Linked DNA regions of Homo sapiens. The protein of the gene in region 3 interacts with the protein of the main gene of each other region in a biochemical or structural test. Each region holds a gene or a part of one and is shown on either strand. Other genes may lie near its edges. The genes, in order: PTPN11, PTPN6 and PECAM1.

What was found.
Region 1: the proteins of PECAM1 (region 3) and PTPN11 form a complex in vitro, tested with the Homo sapiens proteins (4 studies listed by BioGRID, with this or other methods).
Region 2: the proteins of PECAM1 (region 3) and PTPN6 form a complex in vitro, tested with the Homo sapiens proteins (2 studies listed by BioGRID, with this or other methods).

What each region holds. Positions count from the first base shown.
Region 1 is NC_000012.12:112,505,936-112,509,683, reverse strand, and holds part of PTPN11 (tyrosine-protein phosphatase non-receptor type 11), read right to left. Parts: 3' UTR 1-3,748. UniProt on the Homo sapiens protein: Acts downstream of various receptor and cytoplasmic protein tyrosine kinases to participate in the signal transduction from the cell surface to the nucleus. Positively regulates MAPK signal transduction pathway. Dephosphorylates GAB1, ARHGAP35 and EGFR.
Region 2 is NC_000012.12:6,949,257-6,953,004, reverse strand, and holds the start of PTPN6 (tyrosine-protein phosphatase non-receptor type 6), read right to left. Parts: upstream 1,650-3,748; 5' UTR 1,493-1,649; coding exon 1,485-1,492; intron 1,397-1,484; coding exon 1,274-1,396; intron 1,023-1,273; coding exon 828-1,022; intron 1-827. UniProt on the Homo sapiens protein: Tyrosine phosphatase enzyme that plays important roles in controlling immune signaling pathways and fundamental physiological processes such as hematopoiesis.
Region 3 is NC_000017.11:64,384,143-64,387,890, forward strand, and holds part of PECAM1 (platelet endothelial cell adhesion molecule precursor), read right to left. Parts: intron 1-3,748. UniProt on the Homo sapiens protein: Cell adhesion molecule which is required for leukocyte transendothelial migration (TEM) under most inflammatory conditions.

The DNA.
Region 1 (3,748 bases), on a different chromosome or scaffold from region 3:
AGGCAATTAAGTGAATCTCTTGAAACACTAAATGTATAATAAACAGCATATTATCAACATTTACATGATTCACATCAAAATGATGACATCCTAAAACGTATTCCTTTTAAAGGATAGATTTATCAATAAAATATTACATATCTTTTAATACTCTGGTACAATACTTCATATACTGCAGGAAAATTAATTGTAGGTCTAGTCATCAGCTTAATCAGGGATCCTTTTCCCATTAGCTTTTATTAATAAAAGAATCACAATTAGGTCATAAATAAACAGGCAAATTATTAATTACATGATTTGAGGCTTAGGATGAAAACTTGTCAAAATTAGTTTGATATACAGCAAAGTTATACAACACACTAAAACCAACTGTTCAATAGTTTTTGCCTTGTGTGAACTGCCCATAGTGAAAAAGGAACAAATTTTTAGTGATGAAAGATACAATAAACTATATTTTGGAACTTTTCAAGAGGAAGAAGGAAAAAAGATTTCAACAAAATTAAGGGCAAATACAGATCCTAACAAAGGCATCCTGACATCAGGGAGGCCATGTGCTTGCTATGTGTGAAAGTTGATCCCCCAACAACATACAGAAAACAAAAGCTGCACTGGCTTTGTAGTTATGTCTATAGTCTAAGTTTCCCTTATGGATACTAAGCTACAACAAAACACTTGACAATTGCAAACCTTTCCACATCCCCCTGAATTAAAAATAACTCAAGATGTTATTAGTTCTTAAAATCCCCAATAAAATAACCTCTAAAAATAATCTTGACCATTTTCCTGGCTGTTTCCCCGAAGCAACTTGGCTCTTTAAAGAATGCACACACACCAAGAAAGTCCTACCCGTGTCTCCTCATCCCCATTTAGCCACATTTGAAAAGACCTTGGTTTCAGTGGGAGAGATGACCATAAGTTTCAGAAGGGCCACACACTGGACATGAAGCGCCTTTTAGTTTTTTTTAAAAAAAGTTATTAAGACTGTGAAATTTGGCTTTTTTTTTAAACTCCAATACCTAATGTGCCAGATAATTCTTTCACCCCAAAATATAAAATCCTATGCTTATAATTTTAAAATCCTCAGTGAGCTATGGAATATTGTGCATATTTAATACCCACCAGCAACCTAGAAGTAGATGGCATCCATGTGTCTGTCACACCGACTTTCCAAACAACCTCATTCACCCATTACTGACTGCTCTGGCCCTGGGCGCTCTGACTTCCTCAGAAACCACCTCTTTGGAACTTTCCTTTCCACAACTTTTTTTTTAAAACTTCACCTCGAGCTTTCTCCATCATCCCAGCCTCTCTGCCTGATTCCATCTCATGTAAAGTAAACTCGTCTGAGAACCTGCGATCACCTTTTACCAAGCACATGATAAGCCGTAGCAACCTAGGGACTATGATAACTCTGGCCTTGGCCTAAGTTTACATAAGAACATGATAGTTTGCTGACCTCGTGGAGGGAAATCTAAATGAAATCAATATCTTATAACAAAACTAGCCAAGATCAGGTATTTCCATTCTGAGTATAAAAGCAACTGATCTTAAGCAACAGGCAGAGATGTTAATGCAGAAGATATATTTGTACAATCAAACTCTTGTGTGCTGGTGAAAGACTTTACCCCCAAAGTCAAGTCAAGTCAAGACAAAACCAAAGCAAAATGGAGAATGAGTCGATGTAACAATGCGATAAAAAGAACAGCATTCAAGCTTCTTGCTGCAAATACTGAACTGGAATCTTTTTCTTTACAAGTTTGACTAGAAGACAGCAGTGACACTTCCCTAATAAGGGAATACCTTCAGGCCACACCTGTGTTCTGAAGCAATTCAAAGTTCAAGGAATATTGGGGGGTGGAGGTGGGGGCTGATATACATTTTGTCAGTGAGAATGGCAGCCAAACTACCCCAAAGTCTCAAGGGACTGAGAGACCTCAGAAAGGAACTACCACCAGGGCTGGATCTAGGCCTTCCTTTCAGAAGCCAAAGTCAGAAGAATCCAAGGAGGCCACAACTTCATGGCAAAGATGCCATAGCATTATTACCATCACAAAAGTCAACCAATGATATTTTCATTGAAATATCCGCACTGGATGATTCAACATATGAGGCAAAGAGGGATGTCTTTGGAGAAGGCACTTAATGTAGAACATTAGCAAATCTTACTGGTTGGCTACAACAAAAATGAGCTCATTCAACCTGGCTGGAGGCCTGTTAGGGCTGTTCCTTCTCACTGTGGCCTGACTAAAACCCAGTGGCATTAAGAAAGAGTCACGTTTCCCAAGTCTGGGGATGCCCCAGTGGGGTGGTGCTGCTCTCAAAAGCCCTGTGTCCCTAAACACATCCATCCTCACAAGATCAGTTTCCCCAAGTGCTGGTTCCAAAAATAGGCTCAGGGCTAGCAGAAATCATTCAGGAAGCTTCTTGAAGGCCCTCTCTTTATTTCTTAGTCTGACTTTCAGCTTGTCCCAGCTACTGTAAGCAGCTTCGGCTTCCCAAGGTCACTAGCAACTTCTGCTTTTGCTAATATCCTTGGTTTTCCATGGCACTGGTTGTGACCGTCTGTTAGACTAGTGGCCCCCCACTTAACTGCACCTCTACTTCACACCCTTTTCTTGAATCTGAGCTGGGCTTGTGACTTGTTTAGTAAGTAGAGGGCATACCCCAGCTTTCTTCTGATTAGAAAAAACCATCATCATCATCATCATCATCATCATCATCATCATCATCATCATCAATAGAGGGAAGTAGAAGGGACACTGTGACAATTCTGGACTTAAGTTTTCAGAAGGCCTGGCCATTTCTGCTTTTGAGCTCTTGGGAGCTCTGAGCTGCATGTGAGAGGTCTAGCTACCCTGCCAGCCAGGCCACTGAAAGAGACTACACGAAGAAGGAGAGACTCAGGACTGCAGGCAGAGAGAGAAGCCCAGCCATCCCAGTCTCTCCGCCGACCTGCTGACCACATGAGTGGCCACCTGCAGGCTGGCAGAAGAACAGCCCAGCTGAGCCCAGCTCAGATTGACTAACAGTTGGGGGCAGGTTTTTTTAAGCCACTAAAGTTTTGGGATAAGTTTGTCAGCAACATTTGGCGACCAAAAACACTGGTCATTCATAGACGCCTTTTTTCTAAGTACAAGACAATTATTCAAATGCAAAGAAAATATGGCAAACGTTTTCCCACCACAAACTTCTCAGTCAACAGCCGAACTATAATTGGTCAACGGCTGGAAAAAAGAAAAAAAAAAAAGCCACACCTCTTACCTTAATTCATAAATATCCATGATTCTTTTTCTATGACTCTTTAATGCCAGTGCAAAGGTCAACTTCTGACAGTCTCAGGCACTGGCTTAATTCTCATTTGGCCAAAAATAGAAGCCATCAAAATGAATTATCCACTACTGGATACATGATGGTAAATGAGATTGTTCTCACTTTTCTAGGTCGTTGTTACTTAATTTTCCCAAATCATTTCTTCTCATCATCCCCAACAATGAGGAAAAAAAAAATTAAACTGGTTAAGGGTATAAAAATAAAAATAAAAAAGCCTATTACTAGAATTTGAATCCCCATAATCTGCAAAATACAGCGCACAATTTAACTGCTTCCTCAATTTCAAACAAATTCTATAAAATATAATGTTGTCTACATTGTAGAGATGATTTCTTCTTATCTGAGGAAATGAGTAATTGGGAAGCAGGTATTGTTGAGTTAAAATACAGTGGTCTTTAAATGGTTTCAAATTTTGCTT
Region 2 (3,748 bases), on a different chromosome or scaffold from region 3:
GGATCCACGGCAAGGGCAAGTCGGCTTGGCCCAGGGGTGCATGTGAAAACCCCCTAGCGTTATTCCGCTGCCCTTTACTCTAAGGGGATCTGGCATTGAGATGCGGCTGCTGAAAGGAGCCATGGTGTCATGAGGAGCATTCAGAGCCCCCAGCCCCCAGCCCATGCCTTTGGGAGACCACAGGAGGAGTCGGGGAGGCCACAGGAAGGAAATGCCTGGAGTATTACTCTGTGCCCGGGACAGCGTGAGACACTTTACACAGGTGAACACTTCACATCGTGCTCTCAATGATCTCTGTTTGGGCCGGAGACCTATTTGACCCCACAGGACAGACCCATCCCCACGGGGCGGCTGGGACAAGGCATCAAGTGTCTTGGCAAGCATTCATCCCCATCTTCACCCCAGTGTCAGCTCCTCACTGTCCTAACATGTGCTGGGGTGAGGGGCAGACGGAGGAAGGCAGGCTCGATTCCAGAGGAAGAAGAGCTTTCTAACAACAGAGCTGGCCTGCACGACATGCTGGCCACCAGCAGTGGCCTCCCTGTCTCCAGTGGGACCTGGGTTGCAGCGGCCAGGGCTCCCGGAGTAGGGCGAGGCAGCTTTCTGTGGCTTCCTCGGGGTTAGGTGGAAAGGGTGGTAGGTTAGGCTCTGAGACACCAGGTCCCAGGACAGCAGGGAGGAGGGACATTGAGAGCCCCAGCTGGTGCAGGGAGGGGAGGGGATGGAGGGTAGGCAGCGCCGGCTGCCAGTCTCCCTGCCTCCCTGGCTGTTCAGGGTGGGAGCCGGCTCATCCCTGCTTGGGAATGGCGGGGGTGCGGAGCCCTCACCTCTCACTAGTGGGATCGGAGCAGTTCAGCGGGTACTTGAGGTGGATGATGGTGCCGTCGCGGTCCTGCAGGACACCCTGCTGCTGAGTGTAGTACTCCACCAGCTCTGTCAGAGTCGCAAACTTCTCCCCTCCATACAGGTCATAGAAATCCCCTGAGTTCTGGATCCGAATATGGGTCACCTGATCCCCCACCCTGCAGGGCACCAGGCGGTGAGGCCAGTCGGTGCAGGAGTAGAGGCAGGAGGGCAGGGATCGGCTGAGGTCCTGGGTGGGGGCACACATGGGCATGGGTGGGCACAGACAGGGATGGGGAGTGTGGGGGTTGGGGGCAAGGGAACAGACGGGGAGTCAGCACTGCCACGGGGAACCAGGAATGAGTGGTTCAGGGCCTGGATGGCACAAGAGAGTGGCCAAAATGCCCGGGGTTGCGGGGGGCCCACCTACCTGACGGAGAGCGAGAAGTCACCCTGGTTCTTGCGACTGGGCCGAGCCAGGAAGCTACCGTGGACACCTCGGCCCTTGAGCAGGGTCTCTGCATCCAGCCCACTGAGGTCTCGGTGAAACCACCTGGGCGGCCCAGGCAGGGCAGTGAGGAGGGGTCCCGTGGGCACCAGGCACCCTTGCCTCCTGTCTACCGTGGGTGGCAGGCCCTTACCTCACCATCCTGGGGGCTTCCGGAGAGGAAGGGGGCGCAGGGAATGAGGAGGTGCAGCTAGTCTGGGCAGGCAGAGAGCTCAGGGACTAAGCCTCAGATGCAGCTCCCAGTGCCGGGCCGCCTCACCACCCCCGGTGGTCCCAGTTCTGGGGCTGCCACTCCACTGGCCTGGGGCAGCCGGCAGGGCGGGGACAGGAAGAGGCGCGGCCGACCCCTTGGGGGAACTCACTTGTACTTCTCGTTTTAGAGCACAGCAAGGGAAGAGAAGCAGAGCAGGGTGGCACTGGGGGTGGGGACGGGGCCCACTTCCCACACGTCTGCAATCAAAGGCTCAGGAGCATGGCATTGCACATATGTGACAACACATGCAGTAAGGACACATGTGTGCCTTGCACACTCCAGGCCCAGATAATACTTCACGCATGCGAACCCAGACGGTCCCACGGCATCTCTCCCTCCTCCACCAGCTGCTTTTACGCAGCCCTCCCTGGCCCACGCTAATAACAATGATGGCGGTGACAACTGTCATCGAGTGAGTCCTGCTGGATGCCGGGCGCTGTGCTATAATGGCGTTCACATGCCTTGTCTGATTGGTTTCTCACCACAGCCCTATGAAACAGGGGCTATCTTTATCATTTTACAGACAAGGAACCTGAGGCTCAGGGAGTTTAAGGCATTGCCTGAGTCCATCAGTGAGTCAGCTGCAGTGCCAGGATTCAAACCCAGACAGTCCGGTTCCAAAGCCAGTGCTTTGAACTCCTATACACCAGCCCTCAGGGCTTCAAAGAACAGAGATTAAGAGCCTCCTTGTCCAAAGGGGCTGCCATGGGAGCAGGAGACTAATAGTTAAGACCTTGCCAATGCTTGCAAGAGAGAAGGGTGCCCTCCTCTAACCAACATATGCAGTTTGTCCATGCCACTGTGGCAGAGGGATGGACAACATGACCCTGAGCAGCCCTGTCAACATGGGTCCTTTCTAATTCTTGTCCCTAGGCCTCTGCCCTGCCCCAGCACTCCCACCAGGGGGCCTATCTCCTGGGGGGCTGGGGGACAAGGTCCTCACCATGGCTGATTTTCTCAGGGCTGGTTGATCTTAGAGGCCCTAAACACTAAGGTATATGATGCTGCCTACCTGTAATTCCAAATACAAACATCAACACCGCCAAACCAAAACGAGGAAAAGCAGCTCAACAGGGGATACATAAGAAACACATATTGGTGGCTTCCCCTAGGGAGGGAAACTGGGTGGCTGGAGGACAGGGCTGGGGGAGACACTTGGTTCTCTACATACCTTTTTGAATGTTATATGATGGGCATGCATTACCTTTATAAAAATAAATATGCTAACTGGGAACAATTTCTGGGAAACTTTTAGGGTACAGGGAAGGCTCTTTGTCTCTATCTGGATGCTGTTTGCATGGGTGTGTATAAACGTGAAGTTGGCCGGGCGCAGTGGCTCACGCCTGTAATCCCAGCACTTTGGGAGGCCAAGGCTGGCGGATCACGAGGTCAGGAGATCGAGACCAGCCTGGCCAACATAGTGAAACCCCAACTCTACTAAAAATACAAAGATTAGCCGGGTGTGGTGGCACATGCCTGTAATCCCAGCTTCTCAGGAGGTGGAGGTTGCAGTGAGCCGAGATCATGCCACCGCACTCCAGCCTGGGCAACAGAGTGAAACTCCGTCTCAAAAAAAAAAAAATTAAAAACCATACAGATCAAGATCAATGGTGATACAAGAAGATAGGCAGTCTGGAAGCGCAAACAAGGCAAAATAATCTGTAGAAAGTTCTGGAACTGCTCTGAGCCTCAGAATCCCCGCCTGACAAATGAGCTTAACAATATTTCCCAAATACTGATGTGAAAAGCTGGTAAGTGGCAGGGTTTCAGTGCTGCCAGCTTTTACATTATACTATTAATCCTCAGGCCAACCCTACTTAGTAGGTGTTATTCACCCAATTTTAGAAACAGAAACTAAGACTCAGAGATGTTAAGTAATTGCCCAAGGTCACAAGCTAGTGAGTAGGAAGGTGGGTAAAACACGGCTGTCAGACGCCGGAGCCTGGTGCCCTTTCCCCCAACAACCATACTGCAGCAGACAGCGTCGGGGGCAGATGGGATGGGCACTGCCACAGCCCATGATGGAAGGTGGAGGAAGAAGTGCTCCCCCAGAGGCAACATGGGTCAGGGCAAAGAGGTGGCACGCACAGAGTCCACATGGGCAGTGCCTGGCCGTGAGCAAGCCATGTGGCTGGAGCAAAGTT
Region 3 (3,748 bases):
AAATTAACAATAAACGAACTCAATGGATGCACTGGCAGGAACACCACATTCCCATGGCTAGCTCGAACAGACAAGGGAGAAGAGAGGGCAGGATGGAAAAAAGAAAAGCATTTTATAAACTCTGTTGAGATATGAGTCTCAGCTCTTCATCTTAACACAAATATCATCGACAAAACAACAAAAACAGTGACCTAGTTTTTACCGCCACAACCACCACCACCTCCCTTGCTATAGAAGCCCTTCAAGATGCCCCCCCCAATGGTCCTTGCCCTCTGCTCATCACACTTACACGTGGTCACCTCCCACGTTAACATTAACCAACAAAATACTCCATCAGGTAATAAAAGACAATGCAGCTTTTATCCTGATCACTCTCTCTCCTGTCTGGGATCCCTCATTCTGGGGAATGCCAGCAGTCATAGCATAAGCAGCCCTGTGGAAGGTACCCAGGATGAGGAACTAAGGCCTCCAGCCCATAGCCACAGGAGTGAGCTTGGAAGCAGATTCCCCAGACTCAGTCAAGCCTTCAGATAACCGCAACCCTGACCAACAATTTATCTGCAATCTAATGAGACCCGGTGCCAGCACCACCCAACTCAGCCACTCCTGCATTCCTGACCCTCAGAAACTTCAGGATAATAAATCTGTGTTATCTTAAGCCAGTAAGTTTTAGGTAAATTGTTATGCAGCAATAGGTAACAAATATACCACGCAACCAAACTTCAAAAGTCTCTGCCTGATTCTTGTTTTGATAATATGGAAAACATTATCATCTTTCTAAATAAACCAGCCAAGCACAGCCAAACTGAATTACTGCCTGTAGGTCTCACTATTTACACAGAGTGACTGTTCACAACCTGGGGGACACAGCCCCTGGGAGGTGCATGGGTGGGTGTTAGGAGGCTCATCAACTACCTCCAATTGTGTGCAAATGTGTGCTTTTTCTGGAGAGAAGGCCCACAGATTTCCTTACTGAACCCAAAAAGTTTCAGGACTATTGTGATGAAGGGTGGGGCTGTGGGACAGCCTAAAGAGGTCAGATCTTTTCAACCCGGGGAGATGAAGGTTGACGGAGAAGGATCTAAATTTGGAAAGTCACCACGGAACAGCCAGTGACCACAGTGCCAAACCCCAACATGCTAAAAACAGTGGGACCTTGACCTCAAGGCCACTCATCAGTGGATGGTGGTGCTCCCTGGAAACATGCGGCACCATCAGTCAGCCAGCCCCCTGGCCCTCAACCTGGAAATGACTCAGAGAGAAAGTGGAGGGTGCAGGAGAAGGAGGGGCTGCCCACCCTCGTCAGGAAAATTACTGGGAGCCACGAAGCATAGAGTCCCTGATGAACTTCTGTGCTCATCAGAGAGCATGCTGAGCCATCTTCCTACCCGAATCTCAAGCATCTCCAAGTTCAGTTCAAGTTCCCATCCAATGAGACATGTGTCGAGAACCTGTGCCAGGTGCTGGGCTGACAGAGTAAGTAAGAAATCATCCTTGCTGTCCCAAACAGCAAAGGTTGCTGGGGCCCACATAGCTGGACTCCAGTGATATCAGTAAGCACCAAGAGGAAGGGCTGCCCAGGAGAGGTCAAGGAGTCTGAAGGAAGTGACCACTGAACTGAGCCTGCCAGGCCAAGGACAGGCAGTGGGGTACTCCAGGTAAGAGAACAGCGTGTCCCAGGACACGAGGGTGTGAGAAATCCGTGCCTTCTGGGCATGGCCCATTACAGAAACCAGAGTGTGGGGCTAGAGAGGCCAGGTGGCTGGGTCTGTCGTGCCAGAATGGAGGGCTGGCCTGCTGTGCTGACAAGCTGGGCCCTGTCCTGAGGGTGTCAGGAGGGGTGTGACAGCACCCAAGGCCAGTAAACAGCTTGGAAGTGGTTCAGGTGAAAGCTGATGAGGCCTGAGCTAGGCGGGTGCAGTGGGGATGAGGGAAGGATAGGCTGGGGATCTCCTGAGTGGACTCAACAGGACTTGTTTCTGGGGTGTTGAAAATGTTCTAGAATGAATCCCAGCACTTCGGGAGGCCAAGACAGGTGGATCACTTAAGGTCAGGAGTTTGAGAATAGCCTGGCCAACATGGCAAAACCTTGTCTCTACTAAAAATACAAAAATTAGCCGGGCATGGTGGTTCGTGCCTGTAATTGCAGCTACTCAGGAGGGTGAGGCAGGAGAATTGCTTGAATCTGGGAGGTGAAGGTTGCAGTGAGCTGAGATCCAACCACTGCACTCCAGCCTGGGCAACAAGAGTGAGACTCTGTCAAAAAAAAAAAAAAAAGAAAAAGAAAGAATATGTTCTAGAATTAGACAATGGTGATGGTTGCACAACACCGTGAATGTACTAAATGTCATTAATAATAAATGTTATATTATTTGTATTTTACCACAATTTAAAAAAAGACTTTGTTTGATTGGATATGGGGTTGAAAGAATGGAAGATAAACTTCCTGGATTAGATTCCCAGGAGGATGTGTGTGCCACCAAACTAAAATAGAAAATGCCACACGCAGCTGGGTGTGGTGGCTCATATCTGTTATCCCAGCACTTTCGGAGGCCGAGGCAGGAGGATGGCTTCAGCCCAGGAGTTTGAGACCAGCCTGGGCAACAAAATGAGACCCCAGTCTCTACAAAAACAAACAAACAAACAGAAAAAGATAAGGAAGGAAGACAAAGTGATGGTGGTGCAGCTGCGTGTGAGGGGCCAGTAGGAGGACTGGGAGGAGACATCAAAGGTCAGCCTGTGTTAACTGGAGGCTCAGGGCAGAGGCCAGGGCTGGACTGTGAAGGTGGGAGGAGTGTGAACTTAGGGGAGGAGGGGGGAATGTGGAGGTGTTGAGAGGGGAGCTGGTCTCCAGGGAGGATAAGACCAGGAGCCCGCAGAGACCAGGACAGGGTTCAGACTCCAGGAGAAGACAAAGTAAGTCCAAAGTCAGCCATGGGGGAGAAGGAAGAGGGTTTGTTAGAGAGTGAGGAGACAAAGCAGGGAAGAGGATGGAAAAGGTCAAGGAGCGAGGCTTTGGGGCACGATCAAAAGTCAAAGGCAGGAAAGGGGTACAGGGAGCCGAGGGCTGGAAGTGTCCGTTGCATTTGGCATCAGGTGGTCCTTGGTGACCCCTCAGCAAGAGGAGACCCAACAGCCGGAGAAGTGGGGCCTGAGGCCAGGCTGCTGGGAGGCGAGGCGTGTCTGAGAGGTGAGGTGGGTAGGCACAGATTATAAACTAACTTTCAGAGAGGTTCGACTGAGAAAGGAAACTAGAAAGGCCAGATAGGGGGACACCAGATAAACGGTGGGGGTGGGTGTCTGCTTGTGATTTTTCTTTTTCCTAAAAAAAGAGTTCCCATTCACTGAGAGAACAGAGCCAGAAGCAGAAATAGAGATTCTAGAAGTGGTGGTAGGGGAGAGGGACTTGAATGCACGTAGGCGTGGGGTCCTGGGGGTGAGGAAGGGTCTCAGCCTAAGTGCCTGGCTGGCCCCCATCAGCTGAGGAGCAGGGTGCATGTGTCCTCCGAGGCCGGGAGGGAAACCGAGAGGATGGGTGGAGAGGCTGATAAGCCTGCAGCCAGGCCCAGGCGGGAAGTTGAGGGAGTTCCCTCCAGATGACTGTTTTCTAGGTGAAGATGGAGCAGCCGTCACCTCCTGAGGTGAGGCAGCTGCAGTGAGGTGCGGGCTGGAGGGGAACAAAGAGGCCTGAGATGGAAGGAAGGGAAAGGGCCGAGGCTGTCCCAGGACCCCAGCCGCAGAGCGGGAG